Linked DNA regions of Homo sapiens: regions 1, 2, 3, 4 and 5 are each reported to be linked to region 6. The links are microRNA targets in miRTarBase. Many come from high-throughput screens and were not tested one by one. Region 6 holds a microRNA gene; each other region holds the end of a gene's coding sequence.

Evidence for each region. The annotated mature microRNA hsa-miR-3666 reads CAGUGCAAGUGUAGAUGCCGA and lies in region 6 at 2,019-2,039, shown strand. An mRNA with a match to its seed (bases 2 to 7 or 8) in the 3' UTR can be bound and repressed. Matches are read on the target gene's strand: a 7mer-m8 pairs with bases 2 to 8, a 7mer-A1 pairs with bases 2 to 7 and ends in A, and an 8mer does both.
Region 1: miRTarBase lists IER3IP1 as a target of hsa-miR-3666. Seed matches in the 3' UTR shown: 7mer-m8 at 3,738-3,744, 7mer-m8 at 3,668-3,674 and 7mer-A1 at 969-975.
Region 2: miRTarBase lists DLC1 as a target of hsa-miR-3666. Seed matches in the 3' UTR shown: 7mer-A1 at 2,473-2,479.
Region 3: the mRNA of ANKRD9 is a reported target of hsa-miR-3666. Seed matches in the 3' UTR shown: 7mer-m8 at 20-26.
Region 4: miRTarBase lists CLEC12B as a target of hsa-miR-3666. The part of its 3' UTR that is shown has no 7-base or 8-base seed match.
Region 5: miRTarBase lists ZFYVE9 as a target of hsa-miR-3666. Seed matches in the 3' UTR shown: 7mer-m8 at 496-502.

What each region holds. Positions count from the first base shown.
Region 1 is chr18:47,152,337-47,156,409 of GRCh38, forward strand. It overlaps IER3IP1 (immediate early response 3 interacting protein 1), which reads right to left. Exons shown (of 3, transcript NM_016097.5): 3 at 498-3,896. The coding sequence ends at 3,841. Among named protein-coding and RNA genes, the nearest start is that of HDHD2, 3.9 kb to the left of the region's middle.
Region 2 is chr8:13,082,332-13,086,421 of GRCh38, reverse strand. It overlaps DLC1 (DLC1 Rho GTPase activating protein), which reads left to right. Exons shown (of 18, transcript NM_182643.3): 17 at 1-132; 18 at 491-3,061. The coding sequence ends at 611. Among named protein-coding and RNA genes, the nearest start is that of TRMT9B, 140 kb to the right of the region's middle.
Region 3 is chr14:102,503,315-102,507,404 of GRCh38, forward strand. It overlaps ANKRD9 (ankyrin repeat domain 9), which reads right to left. Exons shown (of 4, transcript NM_152326.4): 4 at 1-4,090. The coding sequence ends at 3,622. Among named protein-coding and RNA genes, the nearest start is that of ANKRD9, 4.4 kb to the right of the region's middle.
Region 4 is chr12:10,017,988-10,022,077 of GRCh38, reverse strand. CLEC12B (C-type lectin domain family 12 member B) reads right to left here. Exons shown (of 6, transcript NM_001129998.3): 6 at 3,282-3,747. The coding sequence ends at 3,597. All of the region lies in intron 2 of LOC102724020 (a long non-coding RNA gene), which reads left to right. Among named protein-coding and RNA genes, the nearest start is that of CLEC12B, 9.4 kb to the right of the region's middle.
Region 5 is chr1:52,345,789-52,349,878 of GRCh38, forward strand. ZFYVE9 (zinc finger FYVE-type containing 9) reads left to right here. Exons shown (of 19, transcript NM_004799.4): 19 at 272-846. The coding sequence ends at 433. Among named protein-coding and RNA genes, the nearest start is that of CC2D1B, 18 kb to the right of the region's middle.
Region 6 is chr7:114,651,355-114,655,444 of GRCh38, forward strand. MIR3666 (microRNA 3666) reads left to right here and starts at 1,991; the gene lies at 1,991-2,101. It overlaps FOXP2 (forkhead box P2), which reads left to right. Exons shown (of 17, transcript NM_014491.4): 9 at 849-936; 10 at 2,572-2,655. RefSeq lists an enhancer at 3,700-4,090.

The DNA of each region.
Region 1 (4,073 bases), not on the chromosome of region 6:
TCTTGATCGTTGATACCCTTGGACATAGCCCACTGTGTCCCAGGTCCTTGCATCGAATGTTTTCACAATATTTGACTTCTAATGAAAAATCAGGGGCCAAGAGAAATCTTAGCAAAGAAGAATTCCATTACCATTGGTATCAAAATGTTATTTTTGTTGTTTTGAGACGGAGTCTCACTGTGTAGCCAGGCTGGAGTGCAGTGGCACAATCTCAGCTCACTGCAACCTCTGCCTCCCGGGTTCAAGCGATTCTCATGCCTCAGCCTCCCAAGTAGCTGGAATCACAGGCATGTGCCACCACACCCGACTAACTTTTGTCTTTTAATAGAGACAGGGTTTTGCCATGTTGGCCAGGCTGGTCTCAAACTCCTGACCTGAAGTGATCTGCCTGCCTCAGCCTCCCAAAATGTTGGGATTACAGGCGTAAGCCACCATGCCCAGCCTCAAAATGTTACATTGGTAATAACTTAGAAACTAATAAATCAATGAGAAAGTGATTTGCTTCATAAGAAACATTTTACTTAAGGAGAACATCTCTTTGGTTGAAGCACATCTAGATACAAACATTAGTGATCTGGAAAAGATATATATATATATCTGGACCAGACTTCTGTTCTGAAGGTTATTGACCAATTTTACAGATAGGACAACCAAAAACTACTGAGGTCTTAGGAAGTTTATTTGCTTTCAGTCACATGGTAAAAGGTTTGCTTGATATATTAGAAATATCTTGCCTCCTAGTCTTTTTACTAGTCAAATATCTTGCTTTCTCTTGTCATTTCACCAGTAATACACATCTAACACATATAGAACACAGATTGCCTACTCTTATTGTATCTAAAGCAAGGATTTTGATGGGGAGAGGAAGGTGGGGGAACTCATTTAGCTTTTTATTTCAATAGCTTTAGGGGTACAAGTGGTTTCTGGTTACATGGATGAATTGTATAGTGGTGTAAAGTCTGAAATTTTAGTGCACCCATCACTGGACTACTGTACATTGTACTCAGTATGTAGTTTCTGTTTCCCTCACCCCCTCCCACCCTCCCTAAAGCAGGGATTTTATTTTTTTATATTTTTACTTTTTTAACTTTTAGGGGTACAGTACATTTGTTAAATAGGTAAACTTGTGTCACGGGGGTTTGGCACAGATTATTTCGTTATCCAGGTGCTAAGCCTAGTACCCAGTAATTTTTCTGGCACTCTTTCTCACCCTCCACCCTCAAATAGCCCCCAGTGTCTGTTGTCCCCCTCCTTATGTCCATGAGGTCTTATCATTTAGCTCCCACTTATAAGTAATAACATGTGGTATTTGGTTTTCTGTTCCTACATTAGTTTGTTAAGGATGATGGCTTCCAGCTCCATCCATGTTCCCACAGAAGGTATTATCTAATTCTTTTTTATGGCTAAAGCAGGGATTTTTATAAGATACTTTTTAGCTATATTTTTGAAAATTTAGGGTTTTATGGAAATGCCTTGGGAAGCCTGACAAGAGTGCAGTGGAGGCTGAATAGTGAGCCTTTGAATCCCAGCTCTACTTCAACTAAAAACAAATAAATGGACCTACTCTCATCTGGTTTAGATACGGGAATGTTACAGTTCTGTGTCAGAATTCCTTTGAAAATCTGGTTCTGCTGTTAACTATAAAAGTTTGAAAACCACTGTACTTGATTAGCGATGAATTTGGTTAATATCTACAGACTAGAGCCAAGAACCTTCGCACAGTTCAGAGACATGCAAACACAGGGCCAGAATACATAAGGACTATAAACATCATCGGTATTTGGAGTCCAGAATCATCACAAATTGTTAATCCTGGTAATAGATAAAGGGGAGGACATGGGCAGGCCAACAGGCACTTAAGTTACTGTCTACTAAAATAACACACTCTGTTTACTGAATCACAACTGCTCTGGGGAAACCAGGGCTGACCAGTGAAAGCTTACAGACCCCTCTTCAGCCACAAACTGGAATTATGAAGTGGCCTCCAGATATGACATATTTTGATGTTCAGTTCAGTGCTTCACTTTCCTCAGAACTACTTGGCTACAGAATACTTTGATCCTGGCCCTTCTGTGACTGCTCCCTGATGGAATATTTGGACAAAATCCCAACACTGAATTAAGATGAAGGTATGCTGTAATGTCTTATATGAAAAATAACATCAGATCAAGGTCTCTCTTTTCTTTCATTTTAAAAAATTTTGTACTGCTCATACCATATGGGGAAATGGGCCTGCCCTCAAGTAACTGCTTCTTTTGAATCTTTTCAGTAGCTCAAACTTGAACTCAGGCATCAGTTCTTTGTAAGGCTAAAAGAACACGGCCTCTAAGTACCAAATTAGTCATTCACATGAGCCAAGTAATCAACTAAGAATCCTTGGTACTTTCCTTGGACTAGCTGCAAGCCTATAGTCCAAAGATCACTGATCTCTAACTTAGGAAAGGCCAAAAGGTACTTAATACCTGCTCCATAGTTTTAGAAGTAACTGAAGTCATGAAATAAAAGGTGCTCATGAGTCTTCTGGATGTATGTCAGCAATTCAGTTAATTCACTGAAGAAAAAAAAATACATGTAAATATTTACTTTCATTAACTCTATACTCGGCAATTTTACAGCAAAGAACATATAATAAGAGGTGTTCACCCAAAATGGAGATTAATGCAGTTAACACTGACAGGTTTATACTAAGGTACAAAAACAAGTGCTTGACTTAGAAATTTAACTTTATTTACAAATGTTCTCCTATAAACAAAGATGCCATTCTACACCTTTAAAATATTGTAACTGATAATTTCCATAAAAACCATTTACATAGTTTCAACCTTTCTGCATAAAACTGTATTATGAGATAGGCAAACAATCTCACAAGATGGTCTGAGACATAAAAACAAAAGACAACCTATCCAGCATCAATGTCCTATTGACAAACTCAATGAAGAATTAAGAATCACACTCCACAATGTGCTGCTCCACCAAGAAATAGAAATGTAATGATTTTTTGAAAGGTAAATGCTTCACAATAAACAGTCTTCTTGGGTAGTACAGTGTAATTGTGATTGTTTAGGACTGCTCTTGTGGGCTAATATTTACGCTGTTGTTTTTTTTAAATCATCATTGTAAAAAGGGCAGACTTATAGATTTTTCTGACAATGAAAATCTGTAGACACTGGTCTGGTCTCATCATTCAGGCAAATTAATAAAATAACAAGTGCATGGAAAGAATGTTAAACAAAAACATAATCATCATGTGACTGACAGAATTCTCCCTGAAATCAGAGAATATTAATACTCAATAGTATGTATAAATTTGAATTTATAGCTGAGACAATAGACAAAATAATTAACCAAGGAGCTTAAAATAAAATTATTCAAATTACCTATTTATCATTTTATGTGCAGTAATTACTTTTTAAAAATCCTTTTAATTTTATCTAGGGATAACCACTCACATCATGGCTAAGTTGCAAGGAACTTCAAAACTTTGAAAAAGAATTTCATCCCTGAGAAGTGAGAGATAGAAAAATATCTAAAAAAAGAGAAGCAACAGTCTTGCACCCTTTTAACAATCTCACCACAGCATGAACTACTATTAACACTGAGCAATCAGATATTCCAGTCCTGGAGAGTTACTGCCTTTCATGATCTGATCTTTTGTAATGAAACTACAAGTGCAACATTAAAAAAAAAAACAGATAAATAGAAACCCTGGTTTTATTTTCAGCTTTACATTTTTGACAAGTGCAAGGTCAGCCAGCTAAGATATAAATATTCCAATAATGACCAAAGTAATAACTTCTACTGGCATGTCCTCTTCTGAGTCTCCATTTTCTCCACTGATATTCATCCAAATAATAAAAGTAACACAATTGCAATTGAGTTTACTATTATCAATGGCACTGTAAAGAGAAAAAAAAAAGTTTGTTACTATAAAGAAAAAACAGAGAAAAAACCAGAAAATAATAATTAGCCTCCAGGAACAATAGAAATATCTAACAATATGTCATCATAATCATGTTGTAAAAAGTTATAACAAAGAAACATTCTAAAATACATTGGATCATGAGATCCAAAAC
Region 2 (4,090 bases), not on the chromosome of region 6:
ACTAACCTCTGTGGATCACGATCGCGCACCTGTGGTGGGTGTGAGGGTTAATGTGCTCTTGTCCAGGTATTTGATTGAACCCTGTGGGCCAGGAAAATCCAAACTCACCTACATGTGCAGAGTTGACTTAAGGTATGTTCTGATTCTGATTTTTTTATATGGTGAGGGTCATGAAGGAAATTCTGACTTTTTGTCTAATGCAAAGAATGCCTTAAACAAACACGTCATTTTTTCTTGGTGACTTCATGAAGAATGGTGTTTAGAAAGTAGCATTTCATGTTTGTTGGTCTTTCAGCGACCACTTCGTAATTTGGTTCCCTTAGAAAATGTGGTTCTAAAGCAAAGCAAATATGGTAGCTCGGCCATGAATTCAAAGGCATGGGAAATGATAGATTTTATGCATTTGAACTAGCAAACAGATGTTTCTCATTTTATTTCCATGCTTTCTAACTTAAATAATTCATCAGCTTTTCTTTCTTTTCTCTGATAGGGGCCACATGCCAGAATGGTACACAAAATCTTTTGGACATTTGTGTGCAGCTGAAGTTGTAAAGATCCGGGATTCCTTCAGTAACCAGAACACTGAAACCAAAGACACCAAATCTAGGTGATCACTGAAGCAACGCAACCGCTTCCACCACCATGGTGTTTGTTTCTAGAACTTTTGCCAGTCCTTGAAGAATGGGTTCTGTGTCTAATCCTGAAACAAAGAAAACTACAAGCTGGAGTGTAGGAATTGACTATAGCAATTTGATACATTTTTAAAGCTGCTTCCTGTTTGTTGAGGGTCTGTATTCATAGACCTTGACTGGAATATGTAAGACTGTGCAAAAAAAAAAAAAAAATTTATGTGTATTCTTATTCAAATTGCTTCTGAGAAGCAAAACTCTTTAAATACATTATGGAAGATAATGAAGATACTTCATTCTCTTGTGATATCAGTGTATGCGTACCTGTGTCGCTTTATTTGCAGTGTGTTGAGGGACTGGTGTATCCACTGGAATAGTTGGTACTCTTGGATGTGTTTTCTCACCAAGATGAGCAAAGAAAGGTTTGCACAGAGGAGTGTGAATGTGTGTTTGTTGCTGGCTGAATGGCAATAGATGTCTAAGGTGGATTCAGTGTCTGGCACACTGAGACACCTCCAAGAAGGAGATTGATGCATCAGGTTCAGTTTAACCTGGAATATCTGACTACCCCTGAATCCACCCAGAAAGGGGGCCCAACACCCTTGTCCATTTATGGGTATTTTTTTTCGAAGTTATTAAGCATATTCCTTTTCCACGAACCTCTTCTGTACTTTGATTGTAATAGGTTGGCTCTTACACCCATTCCAAATGCAGTTTATTTTTAGACCCGATTGCAAATAGTGATGTAGTTTTAACCAGTATGGATTAGTTCAGGGATGAACTGCTCCCTCTAGCCTTACTGGCTCTGATCCACAGGGTTTTGTTTTGTTTTGTTTTGTTTTTTGTTTAAGTCGAGATATAAAAACTGAACACGATAACACTTACTCTTAAATCAAGCATCAACACTTTTTCCCTGTTAGAATTCTTTGCATTTTTGTGTTTGTAACAGAAACGCCTTAAGACACTATGTTTGGGAATATAGGAAACTATGTGTGTCCCAAGGAAATCCCTGTAAATTTAACTCACCTACAAAAGGCTTTTTCCCCGCCTTTGGTTGTTAACGGCATTCCTGAAAGCCACATGTGTTTATTCATTGGGCTTGTTCTTATCAGCAAATAGGTTTTCTGGTTTTATGACTTTTTGTCTTATTTTATTTTTCCTACATTTCTTTTTTTTTTTTTTTCCTTTAGAATGCCCTGGAAATATATTTAAGTGGTAATGAAAAATAGTAATCATAGTAAAACGCAACAAGAAGAAAACCAACCCAAACCAGTGAAGTTTTTTAGAACCTTTAGAAGGGTGGTCTTTATTCAGGTTTTACTGTAATGGTAAGGATTGACTCAAGAGACAGTATTAGTAAATTTATTGTGTATGGATCAAAAGTGAATAATGTATGAATGAGAGCTGTAAGAAGGATTTTTATTTTGTTATAATTTAGTTACCATTTTCAGTGTTATTTCAAAGGTTCTTTGAAGAATTTTGGGGCAGGGCATCAGATTAGAGTTTTAAAATTTGAGTATTTTGGATATCAGTGTTCCTCATGAAGATATACATGGATATTCAATTTTGATGGCTTCCAGATTTGTAAGATTGTATGTTGTATATACCATTCTATTAAGAAACATGTCCACTGTGCTTTCAAACATAGATAAAGCATGATAAAGATTATTATTTAAGATATACTTGTATTTATACCTCAGATATTCTTTTGGGTTTTGTACCTCAAGGCTTTTTTCTTCTTATTGTAAATACACTTTACGTGAATACAGTCTAAGTGAAGAAAATAAATAAAAGGAAGAGGTTTATAACTTGCTCTATATCTGTACAGATTATAATCAATAAGTGCACTATTATTAAATGTTTAAAGTAAGGGAAAAGTCTGGGCTGCCTTCCTTAATATTGCATCTCACTCCCACCCTTAAAACCACAGATTGCAAAGCATAGCATTTTAGCATCAACTACAATCAAAAGAGCGATTTGCTGAAGGAAAAATCGGACTGCAAATCATTCCAAGGCCAAACTGCAACTGAGCCACCCACTCCCAAACAGGAAACCCTGGTGAAGGTTCAGGAAGCACGGAGATTCTCTCCAACAAAGGTCCAGTTAGGAAACGACGCTGAGAGGATGACGACAACGTGCAACAGCAGAAAGATGCTTGCAAGCAGAGTCAGGGTCACCAGTGAATGCCACAAAAGTTCTCTTTCCCACTGTTTAATTTGACAAGAGAAGAATTTGAAGGATATGAACATTTTCAAGAACTCTGCTGAGGTCACTTAGAGCGCCATCACAACTTATTTGTGTGACTAATTGCCTAGATTGTAAGCTCTTTGAGGGCAGGGCTTGTCTCTTACACATCTTTATAATCCCCTGCAGCGGCTTTCAGTATTTTGTACTTGTAGGCACCTAATAAATTTATTATTTGCTATACTGAACTGATTGGATTAGCTTCTGTTACTGCAAAGGGAAGAGCATCTAGGATCCCGATCATCTTAAAGCCTCCTTTTCATTCACTGCTGATTTTCAGATGACAGAGACTGGAAATTTCCAACTTCATGGGACTTTTTTTTTTTTTTTTTTTTTTTTTTTTTTTGAGATGGAGTCTCTGTCTGTCGCCGAGGCTGGAGTGCAGTGGCGCGATCTCGGCTCACTGCAAGGTCCACCTCCCGGGTTAACGCCATTCTCCCACCTCAGCCTCCCCAGCAGCTGGGACTACAGGTGCACGCGGCCACGCCCGGCTAACTTTTGTATTTTTAGTAGAGATGGGGTTTCACTGTCTTAGCCAGAGTGGTCTCGATCTCCTGACCTTGTGATCCACCCGCCTCGGCCTCCCAAAGCACTGGGATTACAGGCGTGAGCCACCGCGCCCGGCCACTTCATGGGATCTTAAGTTTTAAACTGAAAAAGACAAATTAACCTGTTGGAGTCTTAAATTTAAACTGATGAAGGTGACATAGATACTATATATAGATACTATGGCTACTGATTTTAAACAGTTTGTGATGGCATTTTAACAAATCACATGTCTCCCAATGTGATGTCTATCCTAGAAGAGGTTGTATTTCAACAAATACTTACTTTGGGCATAGAAAAAGGTTGGTGGGGGGGGGGCCCTAACCTTATAATCCGTTTTGTTTTGTTTTTTTTGTTTTGTGATTTGTTTGTTTTCGAGACAGGGTCTCACTCTGTTGCCCAGGCTGGAGTGCAGTGGTATGATCAAGGCTCACTGCAGCCTTGACCTCCCTGGCTCAAGCGATCCTTCCAACTCAGCCTCTCAAATAGCTGGGACTGCAGGCGCATACCACCACACCCAGCTAATTATTGTATTTTTTGTAGCAATGGGGTTTCACCATGTTGCTGAAGCTGGTCTCGAACTCCTGGACTCAAGCGATCCCCCACCTCGGCCTCCCAAAGTCCTGGGATTACAGGCATGAGCCACCATGCCCAGCCTTCCCCTTATCATT
Region 3 (4,090 bases), not on the chromosome of region 6:
GCTCTGTCGCCCAGGCTGGAGTGCAATGGCGCAATCTTGGCTCACTGCAACCTCCGCCTCCTGGGTTCAAGCAATTCTCCTGCCTCAGCCTCCTGAGTAGCTGGGAGTACAGGTGCCTGCCACCACGCCTGGCTAATTTTTTTATTTTTAGTAGAGACGGGGTTTCATCATGTTGGTCAGGCTGGTCTCGAACTCCTGACCTCATGATCCACCCACCTTGGCCTCCCAAAGTGCTGGGATTACAGGTGTGAGCCACCGCGCCCAGCCTTTCCTTCCATCTTGATTGCAGTGGTGATTACACACATGTAGACATTCATCAGAACTCATCAAAGTATACACTTAAGTCTGTGCATTTTATTACATGTAAGTAACACCTCAATCTGAAAAGTATCAGGGCAACACCACACACTGCAGAGGGGCAGGGCTCCTCCGGCAGTTACTCACTTCCCTTGAAACAGAAGCTCAAACATGGAGTAGTCTTCTGTGACTAAACTTGTTTTCCGCCCTCCCAACTTCCAGGAAGAACCTTCTTCTGAATAGGATTTGAGGTAACTTAGGAAACTGCTCTCAATACGGAATTTTAAAGTTGGTGAGGAAGTCGACAGAAGGGGAAGTCACAGTAGGAAAATCAAGGTACTATCAGGATGAAGTCAGCACGCAGAGCAAGGCCAGCGAGGCCCAGGCGCCAGGCCTTGGTCCCTGCCCACCTCACCCAGGCCAGCCAGACAGCACGGACTGCCCTACAAGGTCACCTCAGAGAGATGGGGGTGTTCTCTCACTGCTGGCTTTTGATGAGCCCAGGAGGGCTCAGCCTTCACTATCCTCCCTAACAGGCATTTGGGGTGCAGAGATGCTGACGCCTGAATAAGGTTGGGATTCGGGGCCCTTGGGAACACTGGGCACCTGGTGGGTGGGTGGAGGGGCAGGACCGGCTGCAGCCATGTTTCCCTTAGAAACAGACTGCTGGAATTAACGAACTAAACAAATGAACCAAGGTGCTTCACCCCCCAAAAAAGTGAGTTTTGTTCTGCGTGGAGCGATTGCCTTTGGGAAGCCACCAAGGCCACCTGCCAACAGGCAAATGCTGTGCTGCCGTCTGCCTGGCTGACTCCGGCCCTCCCAGTCCTGCAAGCTCATGGCCAGGACGATAACGATGACAGGGGCAACACCATGGTCCTCGCTGCCCTTCCTGGGGCAGGAGGGCCCAGAAGACTGATAAGCTAAACCCAGGGCCTCCCTCGGCTGCTTATCTGCCCAGCACCTTTCCTCTAGGTCCTCTCCTCCCACCAGTACAGGGGTCTGGGAGGGGGTTGCAGGGGGTCCTGAACCACAGATCCCTGGAGACTCAGTGGGAGCAGCTGTACTAGGAATCAGGCACCACTCCGCTGCTGTAAGTCTTCGTGAGAGCCACTGGCCAGCTTCCTCTGACTTCCCTGTCCCCTCACCCAAATCGATGACATCAGGAGCTAATGGCCCAGGCTGCCCTCCTGCTGCAGTGCCCATAATTCTTCCGGCAGGCCCCGCCCTGCACTCCACGACCAGCCTGGGTTCTTCATCCTGGTAACCTGACAATGGATTTCGTGGGGCCCACTCTCAGTGCCCGCCAGCCTGTGTCCTGCCTGGCCAGGCAATGAGTACCGGCGGCAGGCAGCTGCCTCACCCCTGCATGACCCCCCCAGCCCAGGGGACTCAATGGCGCTGTCATCAAAGGGGCAGCTGTAGATCTAGGAGGGACGTGGAGGGGGCTAGCCCTGGGCCTCTGGCATTGTGGAGGCTGACCTATAGAGAACAGAGCTGGAGCTGGGGAGACATGAAGTCTGCACATCTAGACCCCAGTGAGGAGCCCAGGCTTTCTAGGCACAAGCCCCATGGGCTCCCCGGGCCCAGCCCCTAAGAACCACGGCAGCTGCGCCAGGCCACTCCTGTCTCCACTTCCATACCCTCCAAAGGAGAGGCACCTCCCCCCCCCATGGCATCTCCAATCTGAGGACCTGCCACCTCCCAGAGGACCGGAGGCCCTGATGCCCCAAGAATTGGGCTTGGAAAGATGTTAATATCCACTGCCCCAAGTGCCAAGGTTCAGAGGCACTGGTCCAGGACACACAGCAGCGGGGAAGTGGAACCCTCACTCCAGCCTGCAGTCTGGGCTCTGTCACTGTGCTGTCTCTCCATCCTTCCCTCCCCACAACCAGGGCTGTAGGCCCACCTAACACACCACACACTTCCCAGAAACAGGAGTCACATCCTTTTCAGGGCTGGTAGGGTGGCTGAAGATGGCCCAAAACCTCCTGAATGGAAAAACCTTGATGGGGAGACTGAGGGCCAAGGCAGAGGTTTGTCCAAGGTCACCCCCAGAGTGGCGGATCCAGGACCCTGGGCAAGATCTTCCTACTGTCCAGGCCTCTCCCCCACCTCTCTTGTGTGGCCCAGCACCCTGGACTCCTCCATGCCCAGGTGTGCTCCCCCCAGGCACGCTGGGGGCAGGGTGGGCAGCAGGTGCCCCCCACCAGGATAGTGGTTCTTCCTCCTGCAGACCTTCAGCCCTCTGCTCCTGGCAGGACACTGTGGCCCTCCTGCCCACGTTGGTGCGGGTTGAATTTGACGGCCCAGCAGAATTCCCAGGCAGGGCAGCCTGGCTATCCTCCCTGGTGTCTCGGCTCTGAGAGCGGAGACCCAGCCTCCCAGCCTGGAGTTGTGGTGAATTCGCAAACAAGTCTCCATCTCCAGAACCTTCCTGAAGAAAACAGCTCTCCAGGCTGGGGCAAGAAGCCTGTCCCTACAGTGATACAACCACCCCTCAATAACCCCGGGCACCACCTGGCACCCACTGGGGGCCACCAGGGAGCCCACCAAGCCCACTCCGGGCTTGGACAGAGGGCAGGCCTGGAGGAAGGCACATCCAACCCCACTGACCGGCATGCACCTGGGGCCAGGGGCCTGCTGCCACTGCAGAGGTGAGAAGCAGGAGCAGCAAGACCTGGTGCCCATTAGTCATGGGGGAAAAGCAAAAGGGGGAGACAGGGACAAATCCAGGCCTGGGTGGGCTGCCTGTCAGGGGGAGTGATATCCAAGGAGGAACTGGTGGTCAGAGTGGGGTGGGGGATACCCGGTACAATTTGTTCATGCCTCAACACCAGCCACCGCGGGCCTGCCAGCCCTGTGTGCCCTCCCTGGCCCGGAGTCCACAGGGTGCAAAAGGCTGACCGCACAGGACCTCCCGTGAGAACCCTACGCTGCAGAGCTCGTTCTCTTGGCTTCCAGGCCTTTTTATACGCTGTCCTGCTGCTTGGACATGCCAGTCCCCACCCCTGCACCTACCGAGCTCCTGCGGCACTCAGCTGTCACCCATCTGGGACGCACACCTGTCCGAGGCTCTAGATCAAGGTGGGAGGTTAGTCCTCACTCCCTTCAGGGGCTGGACAGCGAGCTGAAGGCCCGAGCCCAGCTGCACCCAGAAAACCTGCCACTTGGAACTCACCTGACCATCCAAGCCCAGCCCCCAGTGCATGCGACAGATGAGGCAGAGATTGTGCCGTACAGAGATCAATATATATAAAGTGCCGGTACAACGCTCTGAAAAATAGTTTTGTCCCAAAATCCAGCGCCTAGGGTGCTCCGGGCCTAGCCTTTGCCAGTGAGGTCCAACGGCTGCAGGAATGGGGGCAGCGGCAGCTCGTCCAGGGCCTCGGGGAAGCGGCCTGGAGAGATGGCGGTGACCAGCACCTGCATGGCGCGCGCGAAGAGCGAGGGCGGCGCCAGGCCCGCCAGCCACTGGAACTTGTCCTCACCCAGCAGCCGCTGCCAGCGCGGCCGGTCGCCCAGCAGCTCCTGGCGGGCCGAGCCGGCGGCACCCACGGGGGTGTACAGCGCCAGGAGGTCCAGCAGCAGCAGGCGGCGCTGGCGCGGCTCCCCGGGAGCTGAGGCGGGGGCTCCGGCGGCGGAGGGAGTGGCCCCGGCGTCGCGGCCCAGCTGGCGCAGCAGCAGCTCGAGAGGCGTGAGGCCGCCGCCGTCCCGCAGACCGGGCGAGGCGCCGTGGCCCAGCAGCAGGAAGAGGCACTCGGGGCGCGCCAGCTCACAGGCCACGTGCAGC
Region 4 (4,090 bases), not on the chromosome of region 6:
GCAGCCTCGAATATACCATCAATCCTAGTTTCAGGTAATCATCATTATTGTCCCTGTCTCAACCATGTGTAATCATCACCAATGGAGCTAGTTCACCCGTTTTCTTAATATATAATGGAGGGTTGGCTATTTTACTGAAAATAGGGGCCATTGGGCCAACCTCAGTACAAGGATTTTCAACCTTAGCTTCAGATTGGAATCATGTAGGAAATTTAAATTTTTTTAATAGCCCAGCTACACTTCTCATCAATGAAATCAGCATCTTAAGAGGTGGGACAATCTTAGGCATCAGTATTTCCTCAAAGCTCCCCAGTATAATTTCAGTGTGCAGCAAAATTGAGAACTATTTTCAGAGAGCTAAACAGATCAAACTTCATATCACTTGTCCATCCCAACCATGCCAATTAATACCCTCAGTAAGGGCTTGTTGGCTAAGATTACAACAGTGAAATAGTTGAGAACTGTCACTATATCTGTCCCAATTCTGATCTGTCCTGACCTAACGTGGTCTGCACAAACCAAACCAAATTTGCTAACGTTGCAGAAAGAGCCATCCAGTTTGAAGATGGTTCCAGCACCTTCGCCTCTGGGCCTATTTGCTCAGGGAGTTAGTATTGAGGTTATTTATCCAAACATTGCCACTCAGGCTGTGTTAATAAAAATCACCTGTGTAGTTTGAGAAACTTACAGATTCTCCATTTCTGTCTTCCAATCATTCTGATTTTATAGATCTGACGCGTGGCCCAAATATCTGTGCCTTTAAGGGACTATCCATGTAAATCTGATGTGAAGCCATGTTTGGAACCCATGTTAAATTCTCACATTGCTATAAAGAAATACTCAAGACTGGGTAATTTATAAAGAAAAAAGTTTAATTGGCTCACAGTTCTTCAGGCGGTACAGGAAGAATGATGCTGGAAACTGCTGGGCTTCTGGGGAGGCCTCAGGAAACTTACAGTCATGGTGGAAGATGAAGGAGGGGTGGGTACTTCACACGGCTGGAGCAGGAGCAGGAGAGAGGGTGTGGGGTGGGGTTGGTGGGGATGCTACACACTTTTAAACAACCGGATCTTGCGAGAACTCGCTATCATGAGAACAGCACCAAGAAGATGGTGCTAAGTCATTCATGAGAAATCTGCTCCCATAACCCAATCACCTCCCACCAGGCCCCACAACCAGCATTGGGGATTACATCTTGACATGTGATTTGGTAAGGACACAGATCCAAACCATATCAATGGTCTTTCCCCTAAAAATATACCATTTGTATATACCTGTATATATAAATAAAATATCTCAGGGATTTTGACTGGAGAGGGTGTAGGGGCAGTAGGAGAGGAAGAAAGAAAGAAAAAGAAAGAGATGAAAATTTCTGGAATCAAGTCCTGTCTCATAAGCTAAGTTATCAGAATCAAAGGATGAAGTATTCTGACACAAAGGGCTAGTGAATCTTGAGAACTCTGGATTTATGCATCTACTGTAGAGGTCGTCAGGGATAATATGATGATAGCAGGGCAGCAGGGAGGGAGCTCTTAGTAATAGGAGCTGATCAAGATCCAGAGCACTGTAAGGTCAGAAACAGAAATTTTCTTTTAATGAGTATAAAAGAGTTTACATGAAATGAGAATTAAAATATACAAGATACCAGAAAAAAAAACCTGTAACTTCTTAATAGGAACAAAATAACCAACTAAGGTATTTTAATTATTAAAAGTAGATTTTTTTAATTAGAAATAGAGGAATGAAAGAACTTATTTTTCTCATGGGAATAAAACGAAACCCAAATGTGTGAGAGTCAGAGGCACAGATTTTGACCTTTAAGAAATAATTTTATCTTTGTGAGAATGCCAGGGGCAAACTGCTAAAGAGAAATGGAAGAATCAAGTTTCTTCTTTAATCCATGTGTATATAACTTATGTTTGAATCCCGTATAAGAACTAAGAAACACTGTTTACTTGAACTATGATAATTGTCTGTATTTAAAAAGTTGTGCTTAAATATATTGTTTGTAATTTTTACTAAATTTTCACACTTGACATTTTTCCTTTGTTCTAGAGTTTCTGTTGGTGCCTATATAAAACATTGATTAGTTGATAATTTTAAATATTTAGAGAATAAGAAGCTACTAGATGGTATGTATGAAGTGGTAGTTTCAAAGGACTGTCAAAGTATTGAAATGCATCTAACTTTGAATTTAGATTATATCAATTTTCCAGTAAATTCTAGATTTCTGATCTAGCAAAATCAGTATCAAAGGCTAATTTATCATTATTTTCTTCCTATATATAGCTATGGAACTATGTGAAGATAAATGGAAAACTACATCCTTTACCAGTACTCTGAAATCAGCAATTTTGTTCCAGGAAAAATCTTGAACCCTAGATTTACAATATTTAGCATCTAGTGTGCAGGAACACTGACAAACTGTGATTCAGGAAAGGTCTAAATAATTAAAGATAATGGTTCTTCTATTTTGATGTCTTCAAACAGTTTATTAGGACTTTTCTGAGGGAAACAAAATATCAATTGTAAGAGAATATATTTTTATAATAATACCCAGATTACAAAATCAATAACATCAATATTACTAATTTAAATAAATGACAAACACATAAATATTGGCCAGGGGCAGTGGCTCACACCTGTAATCCCAGGATTTTGGGAGGCTGAGGCTGGCAGATAGCTTGAGCCTAGGTGTTTGAGACCAGCCTGGGCAACATGGTGAAACCTCGTCTCTACAAAAAAATACAAAAATTAGCTGAGCATGGTGTTGCATGCCTGTGGTCCCAGGTATTCGGGAGGCTGAGGTGGGAGGGATCGATTGAGCCCAGGAGATTGAGGCTGCAGTGAGCCAATCACATCACAATACTACAGCCTAGGCAACAGAGTGAGACAGTGTCTCAAAAAAAAGTAAATATTAAATTATTATGCCTAGATTATAAATTATCTAAATTTTAAAGATTAATAAGAACGCTTATTTTCATAGGGTTGTTGGAGAAGAAAAGCTATTTTGCAAGTGCAGGGCGACACTTAGCTGGTTCACAGTGGTACAAACATTTGCTAAAATAAAATATTTCCAAATCAGTTGATACAGTGCTGCAGCCCCAGCTACCAGGACCCTTAGCCTGGGATCCCCCAGACCTCCACATGACCCAGCAACTATCACAACAGGCATCTCTTGGACCTTGTTCTAGTGCTGTGGCCTGTGTTTTTAAATATTTAAATATCACCCTAGTTTTTAAATATTTAAATATCACCCTAGTGCACACGTGACAGTATAATAATAATGAAAGAAAGGAGTCTTTATTTGAGAAAGCAAAGAAATTCAGTGAAATGATTCTGAGACAATCATAGGGCCATAGTATGGCTATTCCCCTTTGTCCCCAGGTATAATTTTAAGACCGAATAATAACATCAAATCAGAAGACGTCAGACAAGGAACTGGAGAATGTTCTGTTAAACAAGTTCATTTGTCTGATAATGTAAATACACAGTCATTTTAAAAGCTGGTTTGGCTCTGGTACCGTAGTTTCCTCTTTCCTCATATGAGCTTACTCACAAGTCTCTTACTTCTTGGAGAATTTGGAAGAAGCATACTAATCCAAATCCTCAGTCTTCACTGGGGCAGCTGTCTTCTCGCAAATCCAAAAAATTTCAGCACTACAGCGAGAAATATAAATATTTCCTTTTTGAAAATAAGCACATCCTTTGGATCCATTGATCTGGTCAAGTTCTTTAGTACTAAATCTGAAAATTAATTTAAAATTAATTATAAATTCTGTATTTGAAACGTGATCACTATTTAGTGCCCTCAGTTGCTCTTACAGCCAATGTCATGTATCTGAATATGGAGAGACTTCTGCCTCCACAAAGCTTCAAAATCTGAAGCTGCCTAAAGCTGGCACAAAATCTGCCCAGAGCTGGCACATCTGGGTTCTTTATTTTAAGTTAATCATAATCCCAGGTAGAATTCTTTAAGAGAAATACTTAAATCCTGGACTGAGAATTTGTATTTCCTTCATAAATATGTAATTCCATTAATGAAATCTAATCAGTTCAGCTTATATTAGAAGTACTTGAAGTTCTTTGG
Region 5 (4,090 bases), not on the chromosome of region 6:
ACCTTTTTACACACCTCTACCCTTCCCCAGAAAACTAAGACCATAACAGGTTAAGTGGCTTACCCAGTGCCTCATGGTTGTCAAGTGGTCAGGAGGAGTAAACAACAGGATAAGTGATCACCCAGAAAAGAGGATAAATTTGTATTCACTGCCATATGTTTAGCCTATGGCCAAAAAGGACATCTCCTTTCCTGCTCAGCCTCCTTGCCCTCAGCCCTGGAGAGGCCTTCTCTGTTCAGTAACCTCTCCTCCTTTTCTCTCTGTGGTATAGGTTGGCTATCAAGCAGGGAGCAATGGCCAGCCCCTTCCCTCGCAGTACATGAATGATCTGGACAGCGCCTTGGTGCCGGTGATCCATGGAGGGGCCTGCCAGCTTAGTGAGGGCCCCGTTGTCATGGAACTCATCTTTTATATTCTGGAAAACATCGTATAAACAGAGAAGACTTCATTTTTTTCTGTTCAGACTTGTTGCAACAGCAGTCATACCCAAATCATTTGCACTTTAAAACTGGAAGATTAAGCTTTTGTTAACACTATTAATGGGGTGGGGAATAGGGTGGGAGTGGGGGTTTGGGAGACGGGTGGGAAAGGGTGGTTGGGGGGACCGATGTTCCATAATTCTAAGTCTTCTATGCATTGTCCACCAAGAAGATCTGGGCAGCTTCTGTTCCTGCACAACAGTTATGCTATCCTTGCAGCTAATCCCCTTCTGTTACTGTTTAGACAAGAATTCCGCTCCTCTCTCAAGATTTACTTATGGTCATGTGCTCAGAAATGCTCAAATGGGTACAACCATCACCAAGGGTGGGATGGGAGGGCAGAGGGGAAATAAAATATAAAGCATCAGTTCTTGCACTCTTTGTACAGAATTGGTATAAAAAGGATAATTCCACACTGATCTTGTCCCAGTTACATCACAGCTGTTTATCAAGTAGAAGTCACACTTAGATTTTTGTTTTTACCAGATTATTCATTGAAGTGAATCGAAGACTCAAGGGCTTAATCTACTCTTCCAGTTTCGGAAGGGCAACTCAGTGTAAATGTCATGTGGAGAGCAGAGGTGAGTTCAGGATTGCTGGAGATCTGCCCGTGTGGATGGCAGGTATTCAACTGGGTATTTCTGTGAATGCTGATGGAATACACCCAGGACATTTTTAGTTATAAATACTGGAGGAATTTAAAAATACATTTTATTGAGAAATAATTTAAACTTCTAGGAAGTTGAAAGTACAAAAAACCCCACGCACACTTTACCCAGATTCCCCTCTTGTTCACTTATTAACATTTTGTCCCATTTGATTTGTCAGGGTTTCTCTCTCCCTTTCTCCTTCTCCATAAAAAATTGAGGCATTTGAGAGTAAATTGCGTACATCATAGGCCTTTCCTCCTAAATGCTTATTTCCTAAAAATAAGGATATTCTCTTACACAACTGTAGGACAGTTCTCTACTTCAGTCAAACATGGATTTGATACTTTAACCTGGCATCTGCCCAGTGATGTTCTTTGTAGCATTTTTTCCCTCCAGTAAACCTTCCAGTATAGAATCAGACATGGCTATGGCTGTCATGACTCATCTTGATCTTTTATGTCATTGATATGTATTTTTTTTGAGACGGAGTCTCGCTCTGTCACCCAGGCTGGAGTGCAGTGGTGCAATCTCGGCTCACTGCAATCTCCGCCTCCCAGGTTGAAGCGATTCTCCTGCTTCAGCCTCCGGAGTAGCTGGGATTACAGACGCCCGCCACCACCCCCAGATAATTTTTTTGTATTTTTAGTAGAGACAGGGTTTCACCATGTTGGCCAGGCCTGAGCTCAAGTGATCCGCCATCCTCTGCCTCCCAACTCCTGATCTCAAGTGATCCGCCATCCTCTGCCTCCCAAACTGCTAGGATTACAGGTGTGAGCCACCGCACTCAGCCTCATTGATATTTTTGGTGAATGTAGCCACCCCCAACCCCACCCTGTTTTTTTTTTTTTAACAGAAAACAACTCAGTTTGATATTTCCTCATATTTAGAATCAGTTTATGTGTTTTTGCCCATAATGACTTGATATCCATCTGCCCCCTCATTGATAGTGGTAAATTTTGATCACTTGGTCAAGGTGTCCAACTTCTCTGTATATCCCCCTACCTGGAACTTATAACCAGTATATGTAGACTTTCAGACCATGCAAATCTCTTGCCTATGAAAGTGTCCCGTTAAATTAGCATGCATTGATGTTTCTTACCTGCACTGATCTTTTACTATGTTTGCAAAATGATTTTCCAATTCTAGCGCATTCTCCAGCTTTACAGGTTGCACTTGGTAATCTACTATAAGCAGAAGCCCTTCCTTCCCAATTTATTCATTTAATTTTCATTATACACTCATGGACTGTTGTTTTGCTTTGTTTTGTTTTGAAACAGTGTCTCACTCTGTCACCCATGCTGGAGTGCAGTGGCACAATCTTAGCTCACTGCAGCCTCAAACTTCTGGGCTCAAGCAAACCCCCCACCTTGGCCTCCCAAAGTGCTGGGATTACAGGCATGAGCCACCAAGCCTGGCCTTTTTCAGTGGTTCCAATTCATTATTTTGGTGCACAAATGGTCTCAGCTTTAGCTAGACAAGAGACCCTTCAAGCTGGCTCCTACATCCTGGTGATATGCTATTTTTTTTTTTTTTTTTTTTGAGTACTTCTTTTTTATTTCTATCCTAACAAGATGCTTCAGGCTTATCTTGTGCTTATCCTGCCCTAGCCCTGGAATCAGCTATTTCTGCAAGGAGCCCTGGCTTCTTTTAATGGGAGTGGTATTAGAAACCAAAATCTGGTTTATCCATGATATGTGTGATGCACTCTGACCTTTTTCTGTTTCATTAAAAATTTATTTTGATCTTAGACCAAATGGATTCCACAATGCACATTTTGAAAATACTGCTTTAGGGCAATGTACTCCATTGTCACTGGCATCTTCTGAAAGCCAAGGCTAAACTAGTTTTTCTGCAGTATTAGTACAGCTCCAAGAATTCCCTGGAAGCTAGCGCAGGCCTGTGGGACAGCGACAGGCTGCTCCCCAGTGGCTAGTGCTGGGTTTAGCACGAGGCAACAGCAGGCTGTGGAGCTGTGTTTGCGGCAGCAGCTGTTTTCCAGAGGCCTAAAGGCCTGGCCTGGGAAACATCTGGGTAGGTTCATCCTGCTCTCTGAGGTGGGAGCTTATAGTCGACATCTGCCTCTCCAAAGGTTTTACCGACGGTGGTTGCACAGAACTCTTACTGTGACCTTTCCCACAGGCTCAGAGGTACTCAGAGCTTCTAAGGGGAAGCTTGGCCCACAGAGCAGCAGCTTGTCAGGACCGAGCCCTGGTAACCACTACCTCCAAACCTGACAAGAACAGGAAGCACTTGTTAACAGGGGCAGCTTATTTTTGGTCTAATAGCCAGCTTTGTCTGAACATACCTCAAAAGTCTGGAACTTCTACAGGGACTGGTCCTGTTTTCCTGTGGTTTATCTTCCTGCTTGCCATTGTACTTATTTATTCTGGTTCAGTGCAAGCTTTTAAATTCTCCCACTAAGGACAAACTCTGGCCCTCAGATCCTTTCTCAGCTGCATCAAATGTCCTCTGTGTTTAGTAAAATCATTTGTGGAATTGGGCATAAAATAGCCAATGATAGTTAATTGTTTTCCTTGTTTATCCTTGCTTTTATACAATGTATATTGTAAGAATTATATAAAGCAAGGGGCTGAACCACATTTCGAAATAGGCAAATCTTCTGGATTGTAAACTTAAAGATTGAGATACAGCGATCCTTCTATACTTAAGAGGAATAGAATTGCCATTCTGGTAATTTATTAAATTTTTTAAAATTATTAAATGCTTATCAAATGCTAGGCAATGTATTTTTATCAACATCTTCTGAGGAACTACTGGACTCTAGGGCTACAGATTTGAAATTATGCCTCTGTAAATTCCCACGTCTTGTCTTCCCCCAGCCACAGTGGTTCCTGAGCACTGGTGGGCCCAAGATTTTCAGTTAAGTTTACCTCTAGATAACTGGTCACCTGGGAAATAATTTATGCATTTAACACATTTCAAACAACAATCAACCTGCTG
Region 6 (4,090 bases):
TTTTGGGAAGCATCAAAGACATTATGTATTACAAATTACAGAGTATATATTATTAAATGTTTTCATGTTCATTGGAGATGCTGCTTTACTAAATTACTTTTGGTGTATTAACATACCACTCATTAAAGAGATCTCTTTAAACATCGTATAGAAATAATAATGGTAGACTAATGCATATTCAAGGTTAGAGTGAGATCATTTGGAATGATTTATTTTTCACCATTTTAAAAATAAGATTAGGACAAATGTCTCCTAGTTAGAACACTGGACATGAAATGTCAATCTTGTTATTCTAATGATCAAAATCTTCAATGAAGTTCTTTATTACTAACAGCAAATCATCATTCTTCATAAATATTGATTTTCCACGGGAGATAATTTGCCATCTTTACCTAATTCATACCACATCCCAATGAAATAAAACATTGCTCACTAAAATACATCATAGAAACAACAAACTGTTCTAACAATGAAATAGAAAATTGCCTTTGTTCTCTTCAGAATTGCTTTTGGTTCATAGATTTGTAAGCTGTTCTTTTTAAAAAAATGGCATAAATAATATGACTTCTACTATAACTCTGTAAATGGTCTGGGGAAATATTTTTTGTAATAACAGGTAAGCTTAGAGACAGTGACATTTTCTGCCATTTGAAGAGTCTCTTTACATTACATAAATAATTTTCACACAACACGTAAGCAGCTTTAACTTTTATCTGTATGGTTTCAAGGCTTTCTGTTTTCCCAGTGCACAGAAACATCTGACTTCAGTGTAGTGCTTTTTAAGTGTAGCCTATGCCACTAAGATCGACATCACTTTACATTCTGTTTTGTGTCTTCTGTTTGTTTAGGCACCTTAACAATGAACACGCATTGGATGACCGAAGCACTGCTCAGTGTCGAGTGCAAATGCAGGTGGTGCAACAGTTAGAAATACAGGTTTGTTAAATGCTCACTTAATGGACTCTTCTTAGATTTCTGGTGTGTTACATTGAGTACTGAGCAGATTCTGGGTCTTTCAGCCTGCATTTTACTGTCTTAGCCATTCAATACTAATGGAGATACATGATATTTTAGATTGTTTTAAACAGTGGCAATTATTGATAACCCAGGAAGGATTGCTGTAGTTTAATGTACTTATCACTTATATTTTTATAACTTTTAGACCACATCATATGAATTTGAATATCCCAAAGTAGTCAGATCTAAGTTTTTCCCAATGCAGGTTAGACCAAACTCCCAATTAGATATGATTTTATTACAGAGAGAGTTTTTACATGAGCTAACCTTGATTTTTTTCCATGAGATTTTATATTGTGGCAAATGACCAGTCTTTACAATATCATGCCTGTAATATAACTAACACCCTGAAAGATAACCTTTTCTTTTCTTTTTCTAGTGTAATTTTAATTAAAGAACTTGCAAAAAAATCTTTATACTTTTCTTTAGCTAGATTAAAGGCAGATAATTTATATCACAGATGATAATACACACATGTTGTATCAAATGCGACTGTTTTAAGTTAAAAAAAATTCTATTAATGTTGAAACAGAATTTGGCCAGAAGTAAATAGAATCCATAGAACTAATCAGAAAGCAATTATGTCACCCAAAGTCTGACTCTTGTTATGTTTTACTAAGCCTTTAAGGCTTTCTCTAACATTTCATCTTAAAGATGATCTTTTCTCAATGAAACTAATACTTTGTTTCATTTAAAGATACGATTTTTCTTCATATTTTATTACATCTTGTTTCAAATTCGTGTCATTGCTTTTTTCAGAGAGCTTACTAAAAATATTTTGTTTTGACTTGTAAAATAATCAAGAACACAAAAAGCACCATCACTGTTAAAGTTTAAAAAGCTTTTTATAAACCTGTTTACCATTTATAAAAGGTAGACTAAAACATAAGAGTTCAGCTGATGATACAGTCTTCGGTGTGACCAATTACGCCTATTTTTTTTTTTTCCTTCTGCTGTGTCTGACTGATGGAAAAGTAAGGTCCGTCAGTTGTAATGAGACCCAGTGCAAGTGTAGATGCCGACTCCGTGGCAGAGTTCAGCGTTTCACACTGCCTGGTCTCTGTCACTCTATTGAATTAGATTGATGATGGCAGATTGCAGGGGGCACTAACTGGACCTCAGTGGGAATGCATGAAGTGTGTAGACAATCCTGGCAGGCACTTTGCTTTGAGAACCCTTCACCCCTTCACAGCTGTTGGCACTAGTCCATTGCTAACAGTGTCCACAGGACTTTAAAGAGACACCATGGGCCTTCTAATTTATGGTTTCAGTAACTTGTTACTGTCGAGGCAACTGTGACCTCAATTCTCTTATTGACAAAAAGATGAAGTGTTATTTGTTTTCTCTGACCTTTTAACATAAGAAAAGCTATAAAAGTTTTTCCCCCTCCATAGCTAAAGTTGCATTTCCTCCCAGATAAGTTCCTCCTGACGCAGACTTTTACATGCAGGAATCATTATTCTGAGGCAAGCTCAATGATAAGATGTATCACTGCAATAAAATAGCTGTATCAGTCATTTCTAAAACGCTTCTGATCTCACTCTTTCTTAACAGCTTTCTAAAGAACGCGAACGTCTTCAAGCAATGATGACCCACTTGCACATGCGACCCTCAGAGCCCAAACCATCTCCCAAACCTGTAAGTGCATATTGCTTTATAAACAGTAAATAGCTCTACCAATGTAACAGACTAAGAAAATGAACAATTTAGTGACAGTTAGAAAACAATGAGTGTGATGAAAAATACGGCAATAAAATGAAAGTAAAATGTAATCGCTTGTCAAATTGTATGTTTCTTTTAAAGTAATGCTATCTTTTACAAAATCTATCCAATCTACACCATGGGTGACACTAAACAAAGTACACCTATCAGTGCACAAATCACTGCCTTGGGGCTGAAGCCAGAGAGAATTTCTTTCTGTGATAGGTTTACAGATATTAAAAGGAAACCCTCTTTGAGCAACCTGAAAAGTAGTAACGTACAAATCACAAATAGAAATGTATGTGGTGTGCTGAAGAAGGCAGATCAATCATAAGATACATATAAATAGATTTTTATCAAATATTTTGTCATAAAGGTCATGGTATTTTTATAGCCAATTTTGTCCTATTTCTTTGGTTATTTCAGTTAAGATGTATTTCACATATTGATATGTTTTATTGTACATTATACATAATGTTAATTTAGAGAGCTTATCACAAAAAGAAGTGGGTGATTATAGAAAATTAAGACTAGTTTCCCTCAAAAATATATGAGATTTAAGCTCAACCTAATAATGTAGTCAGATACACAGACTGTTGAAAAGAATATACTTTATCTCATTCAGCTGATGTTTGCACAGAAACTTAGAGTAATCAACTGGGTAACTCTAGTTTAATGAAAGTTTGTGGGATACTTTTTAATAAGGCCCCTGTATAGCCTGATGATTAATGATTGCCAGTCTTGCCTCTCCCTCTATTTCTTTAGGTAAAAAACGAACATTTGGCTTTGTAGTTGGGGAGGAGACAGAAGACGACTATATTGTCTAATTTTCTCGTAATGTCTCGATATTTCTTATCAATTAATATCATTCAAAATTTACTTTTTTGGTAGAGATTATATTTAAACTCTGCTAAGCTATTTCTGCTTTTCCTTTGTACTGTATTTAAAGGTAGAGTACTGTAAAAACATTTTTATAGGAAGAAAAAAGACATGTATCTTTTTGAATCTGACATACTACTTTTTAAACTCTAAAATGTCTGAGTTTTTAATTAAAAAATAAACTTTTGAGGATATTTTTGATCATGTATTTATGACTATCTTTTCAATAAGATTTTTTCCCTCATTGCTTCTATAGTATAATGTAGATAATCACAAGACAGAATAATTGTCTCATAAATCCATCAGGAATCTGCAGCTTGTTCTTTTCCAATTAATTATTCAATCAGTAAATTTTTTAAAACTCCAGCAGCATGGTTACATCTACACTAATAAAGAATTTTCAGCCTATAATCCAAAACAGAACCTGAATGAATAATGTAATTGAAGTATTACATTACATAAACCACACATGAAAGAATTGCTAATTGCGTTT